Homo sapiens: one gene and its partner. The protein of the gene in region 1 purifies or fractionates together with the protein of each later gene. This does not show direct contact. Each region holds a gene or a part of one and is shown in the gene's direction. Other genes may lie near its edges.

Evidence for each region. Proteins that work in one complex are often made in the same cells at the same time.
Region 2: the proteins of SLC39A13 (region 1) and EXD2 purify together in Homo sapiens (affinity purification with mass spectrometry; one large-scale study listed by BioGRID and IntAct). This does not show direct contact.

Annotation. Positions count from the first base shown.
Region 1 is NC_000011.10:47,411,590-47,414,292, forward strand, and holds part of SLC39A13 (zinc transporter ZIP13 isoform a precursor), read left to right. Parts: intron 1-336; coding exon 337-450; intron 451-756; coding exon 757-878; intron 879-1,810; coding exon 1,811-1,918; intron 1,919-2,007; coding exon 2,008-2,097; intron 2,098-2,695; coding exon of another isoform or gene 2,696-2,703. UniProt on the Homo sapiens protein: Functions as a zinc transporter transporting Zn(2+) from the Golgi apparatus to the cytosol and thus influences the zinc level at least in areas of the cytosol. May regulate beige adipocyte differentiation.
Region 2 is NC_000014.9:69,232,998-69,236,497, forward strand, and holds part of EXD2 (exonuclease 3'-5' domain-containing protein 2), read left to right. Parts: intron 1-1,702; coding exon 1,703-2,034; intron 2,035-3,048; coding exon 3,049-3,155; intron 3,156-3,409; coding exon 3,410-3,500. UniProt on the Homo sapiens protein: Exonuclease that has both 3'-5' exoribonuclease and exodeoxyribonuclease activities, depending on the divalent metal cation used as cofactor.

The DNA of each region.
Region 1 (2,703 bases):
GCGAGACTCCATCTCAAAACAAAACAAGATAAAATAATAATTCCCATAAGACCCAATTTACAGATGGAGAAACCGAGTCTCCAAAGTCATCTGCCAAGGTCACCAGCTAGTGGGTTGGGAGCTGGGACCTGTCAGCTCTTCACCATGACATGGTGGTGGCCCTGTGGGCATTTGGCAGGGTGTGGTGTTTCTGCTGTGAGGTGGGGGACCCAGGAAGAGCAGCCACCCATATCCAGCCTTGCAGGCCCAGAAAGAGCCCAGTGAGTGGGGTGGGATGAAGGTCAGGCCAGGAGCTCCAGCCAGTCAGCCCCCAGACCCCGCATCTCTCCCTTGTAGCTGGGGCCTGGCGCCTGAAGCAGCTGCTCAGCTTCGCCCTGGGGGGACTCTTGGGCAATGTGTTTCTGCATCTGCTGCCCGAAGCCTGGGCCTACACGTGCAGCGCCAGCCCTGGTAAGTGAGGCCACACGCCAGGGGCAAGACAGTGCCAGGAGTGGGGGCCTGGTGCCCACGCCCAGGGATGGCCAGGATGACCAGGAGAGGGATTCTGGGTTTCTGGCAGGAGCTTGCCTGGGAGGGAGGGAGGGTCATTGTCCTGGTCTCTGGGCCCTGGTCCCAGTGGGAGTTCTGGGCCCCAGCTGCCCAACCCACCCTTGTCACTGCCCTGGTGCCCTGGATGAGATCCCATTCCAAATGGCCCCCTCCTATGGCCCTGGCTTGGCTTGGCCTGGCCTGGCCTGGCATTGCCGCCCCCTGCAGGTGGTGAGGGGCAGAGCCTGCAGCAGCAGCAACAGCTGGGGCTGTGGGTCATTGCTGGCATCCTGACCTTCCTGGCGTTGGAGAAGATGTTCCTGGACAGCAAGGAGGAGGGGACCAGCCAGGTGGGCCCCACACTCAAGGGCCTGGATATATCAGCCTCTGTTCTGTGGTAGTGCCCGGGGCCTGGAGGCCCAGGGTCTGAGTTGAGCCCTGAAAAGAGGGGTCTCCTGGCCCTCTCCTGGGAGCTGCGGGAGGTTGGGCCACCTTCTTTGGGACTGACACCATTAGCCCCTGATGTAGCTTGTTCTGGTAGCCTGATGGTGACAGCAGTTGGGGAGGGTTTGTTGAGTTTGGGGGCACCCAACTGATATAGCAGCAGAGGATTCTAGCTAGAAAAAACAGGGGTTCCTATCTTTTTTTTTTTTTTTTTTTTTGAGACGGAGTCTCGCTCTGTCACCCAGGCTGAAGTGCAGTGGCACGATCGTGGCTCACGGCAACCTCTGCCTCCCGGGTTCAAGCGATTCTCCTGCCTCAGCCTCCCGAGTAGCTGGGACCACAGGTGCGCGCCACCATGCCCAGCTAACTTTTGTATTTTTAGTGGAGACGGGGTTTCACCATGTTGTCCAGGATGGTCTCGATCTCTTGACTTCTTGATCCACCCACCTCAGCCTCCCAATTATTATTATTATTTTTTTGAGAAGAGTCTCGCTCTGTCACCCAGGCTGGAGTGCAGTGGCGCGATCTCGGCTCACTACAGCTTTCACCTCCCAGGTTCAAGCAATTCTTCTGCCTCAGCCTCCCAAGTAGCTGGGACCACGCCCAGCTAATTTTTGTATTTTTAGTAGAGGTGGGGTTTCACCATGTTGGCCAGGCTGGTCTCGAACTCCTGACCTCAGGTGATCCATCTGCCTTGGGCTCCCAAAGTGCTGGGATTACAGGCATGAGCCACTGCACCCAGCCCCCGTCTCTCTTTCTCCATCTCTCTCCCCTTCTGTCTGCCCTGGCTGAGTGGGGGGCATCTAATGTCACCTCTCCCTCCTTCTCCTGGCCCTAGGCCCCCAACAAAGACCCCACTGCTGCTGCCGCCGCGCTCAATGGAGGCCACTGTCTGGCCCAGCCGGCTGCAGAGCCCGGCCTCGGTGCCGTGGTCCGGAGCATCAAAGTGAGTGGCCTGCTCAGGGCCCCTGCAGCCGTACTGCCCTGAGTGGCCAGCCCCACTCAGCCCTGCCTCCTGCCTTCCCTCCTTCCCAGGTCAGCGGCTACCTCAACCTGCTGGCCAACACCATCGATAACTTCACCCACGGGCTGGCTGTGGCTGCCAGCTTCCTTGTGAGCAAGAAGGTGAGGGGCTTGGGGCCAGTGGGGCTCTGGCGATTCCAGTGGCAGCCATGTGGATTCCACCTGTGTCTGGAGTCTCTGCTTCTTGCCCCTCCATTGCCAGCGCCCTCATCTAAGGCTCTCATCCCCCATCCTCCCTGCTGCTGTCCTGGCCGCCACTGTTCTCTGATCCTGAGCCCCTGGTCTGTTCCTGTTCCCAGTACTCCTTGTTGGGTGCCTCTGTCAAGCTGCTAGGCGTGGCCCCTGCCTGCTCCTAGATGCTTCTTCCTCTACCTCCTCCCTCTGGCCTCTGGCCTCTGGCCCAGAGGCAGCCTACTCTGCAGCTGGCCGAGATCTTTCCCACCTCACACTGTTCCCCCTGCCTGGAATGTTCTCCCGCCCACGCTTCGAGCGGCTGACGACTCATCCTTGGGGCCTCGACTTACATGGACTCCTCCACCAGGCCTTTGCTGACCTCCTCATCTAAATTTGGTTCCTGGGCCTGCTCCCCTGGGCACTCTATCCATCCTTTCCTTCCCAGCGCCTGTGAGTGTGTGAGTGAGTCCTGTCTCTCCCCTCTATACCGCTAGCTTCGTGAAGGCAGGTTCCTTGTCCCCTTTAGTCACTGCT
Region 2 (3,500 bases), on another chromosome or scaffold:
CATATAGTTTTAGCTCTTGCATTTAAGTCTGTGATCCATTTTGAGTTAATTTTTGTGTGTCTTGTGAGGTAGGGGTCCACATTCACTCTTTTGCATGTGGACCTCCAGTCATCCTAGTACCATTTGTTTCTTTATCATTAGAAAATAATGTGTTAGAGGGAACTCTAAAGTCTTCTCATTCAAGCACACATTCTTCTGTGGGAAACAGTCTGCTAATAGATATGTAGATTGTTGGATCTAGGTGGAAAATTTTATCCAAACTTGTTTTACTCTAAAAGTATAAATGATCCTTACTAATAGAATTATTCACTGGCTTGGTTATTAAAGGTGAAATAATAGAATTTTAAAGTCCTTACACTTTTTGTTGGGAAAAGCTATTAATTTTAGTTTTTTTAAAATTTTAGTTTTTTTTTTAAATTTAATTTAATTAATTTATTTATTTATTTTGAGATGGAGTCCCACTCTGTCGCTCAGGCTGGAGTGCAGTGGTGCGATCTCAGCTCACTGCAACTTCTGCCTCCTGGGTTCAAGCCCCAGGTTCAAGCGATTCTCCTGCCTCAGCCTTCCGAGTAGATGGGATTACAGGCGCGTGCCACCGCGCCCAGCTGATTTTTTTTATTTTTAGTAGAGATGGGGTTTCCCCATGTTGGCTGCGCTGGTCTCAAATTCCTGACCTCAAGTGATCTACCCGCCTCAGCCTCCCAAAGTGTTGGGATTACAAGCGTGAGCCACCACACCCAGCCGAATTTTAGTTTTGACCACGCTACTTTTTTTTTTTTTTTTTTTGAGATAGAGTCCTGTTCTGTCTCCTAGGCTGGAGTGCAGTGGCACGGTCTCAGCTCACTGCAATCTTCGTCTCCTGGGTTCAAGCGATTCTCCTGCCTTAGGCCTCCTGAGTAGCTGGGATTACAGGCGTCCACCACCACACCCAGCTAATTTTTGTATTTTTAGTAGAGACAGGGTTTCACCATGTTGGCCAGGCTGGTTTCGAACTCCTGACCTCAGGTGATCTGTTCGCCTTGGCCTCCTAAAGTGCTGGGATTACAGGTGTGAGCCACCATACCTGGCCCACAGTACTTTTCTTTATGACCAGCTTGCCTATCACCAGTTGCTTAGGAGAATGACTTACCACTATTAAATAAGTAAATTCCAGGAATGGGCCCTGTGACTTTGATTTGAGGCCCATGTTTGAAACCTATTTGTTTTTTTTGTTTTCAATATCATATTAATAGATATGGCAGTTCATTTCTGATTGACAGTCACACAGGCCTCTTAATGAATCATGATTTCAGCCATTCCAGAGGATGACTGCCTCCAAAGTGAATTTCATGTACTAGTTATCAGGCCTTTGTTAACTACCCTTCCCCCAAACTTGAGAGAAATCTGTCCAGCAATTTGGTAGTAGATAGAAACTTCACTGATTTATATAGGTGAGGATTTTCCAGCATTTAGAGTAAGTCATTATTTTAGCTATTTTAGTTAAAAACATAGGGAACATGAGAGTTAATCATACTATTCAATTTACTTTTGTGTAGTTTGAAAATTTTTATAATAAGAAGTTTTAAGGAAGTGTATGGTGCCCAGGTTGTCGTACATTTTGAATTAGGATCCTAAGAGTTATCTATTTCTTTGTGATTGACTTTGAAGTTTTTCTCTCTGGTTTGCCTTCCAGATTCCACTGATCTCTGACTTTTCTCTTCAGGTAATTTATGCTGCCAGGGATGCCCAGATTTCAGTGGCTCTCTTTCTTCATCTTCTTGGATACCCTTTCTCTAGGAATTCACCTGGAGAAAAAAACGATGACCACAGTAGCTGGAGAAAAGTCTTGGAAAAATGCCAGGGTGTGGTCGACATCCCATTTCGAAGCAAAGGAATGAGCAGATTGGGAGAAGAGGTTAATGGGGAAGCAACAGAATCTCAGCAGAAGCCAAGAAATAAGAAGTCTAAGATGGATGGGATGGTGCCAGGCAACCACCAAGGGAGAGACCCCAGAAAACATAAAAGAAAGCCTCTGGGGGTGGGCTATTCTGCCAGGTAACTGAATCACTCCCTGTCTAGTAAAGAGTCAGTGGCCCAGCCTTAGCAAAGGGTTTGATGCTTCCCTGGGGTCTGGGGAGAAGGCTTGTAGTAGGGGAGCAGCAGCTCTCCCGGGGTTAATCTTGCTTTTTCTTTCCATCAGAGACATTTGGTCTCTCCTTTGCTTTATTTGTGTATTTTTCTCCTTTTCCCTTATTTTACCTTTTTATTTATTGACAGTTGGGGTGGAAATGAGGAAAGCTTAGCTTAGTTCTGTCATTGACCCTGATGTGACCTTAGGCCTTAACTTCTCCAACTGTAAATGGGGATATAATTATCATTCCTTCCTTGTTTCAGGCTAGCTGTGGAAAATAAATAACATGTAGTGCCTCATACTTTTCAGGAGAAATGCATCATCTGATTTCTTGTTCATATGTTATTTGATTATTTAGAATGACATCCAGCTCCAAGAAAATGTTACTCTCTAGCCAATGAAAAATGTCCTGTATAACTTATTCCTCTATTGTAGGAAGATGACTAATAAGTACTTTGGAGCATAAATTTGGTCCCTGTAGCAAAGTGCCTTTAGGAATTAATTGGATGATTAAATTGAAGGAAGTGTTACTGCATGTGAGTTAGAAGTAAATCCACATGGCCCTCATTACTTTGGCTTGAACTTTAAAATTTTTAATGTACTTTGTTTAATCCAGTGATTTGGCAGTTTTCTTGTTGCTTGGTTCTTTTTTGCATTCACAGCAGAGCTGTGTGTAAACCACTTGACACACTCCCTAATGTCCTAGTCCATAAGTGTAAAAACTAGAGGCATAAACTCATTCATTTTTAGTTCTGTTTCCTAGCCCAGTGCAGGTGAGGATTAAACATGGTTTCTCACTCTGTTTTTTCCATAGTGGTGTGTTTGACCTTAGTGTTGAGAATAGTTTTGAGTCACTCAGAAGAGAGCATGGGAAGGCAACAGACATTTTGACCCACAGTTAGCTTCCGGTTTGAGATTTCTCTTTCCTTTCCCTGCAGAAAATCACCTCTTTATGATAACTGCTTTCTCCATGCTCCTGATGGACAGCCCCTCTGCACTTGTGATAGAAGAAAAGCTCAGTGGTACCTGGACAAAGGCATTGGTGGTATGAGATTCAGCTGTCCTTGTTTATCTCTAATTAGGTGCATTGGATGCTGGCAGGAGTGGGGAGTGAGATAAGGAAGAGGGAGGGATAGAAGAAGGCAGAGAGACCGTGAGATGCATGGGACTGGGTAGGCACAACCCAGAAATCATGTTCTCTGCCAGGCCATAGCAGAGAACAGTGAAGGTAGTGCTGCTTCTTGGGTGTGGTGGTGGGGGCAGGGGGAGCAGTCAAACACTGATGTCTCTTCTCTTAAGAGCTGGTGAGTGAAGAGCCCTTTGTGGTGAAGCTACGGTTTGAACCTGCAGGAAGGCCCGAATCTCCTGGAGACTATTACTTGATGGTTAA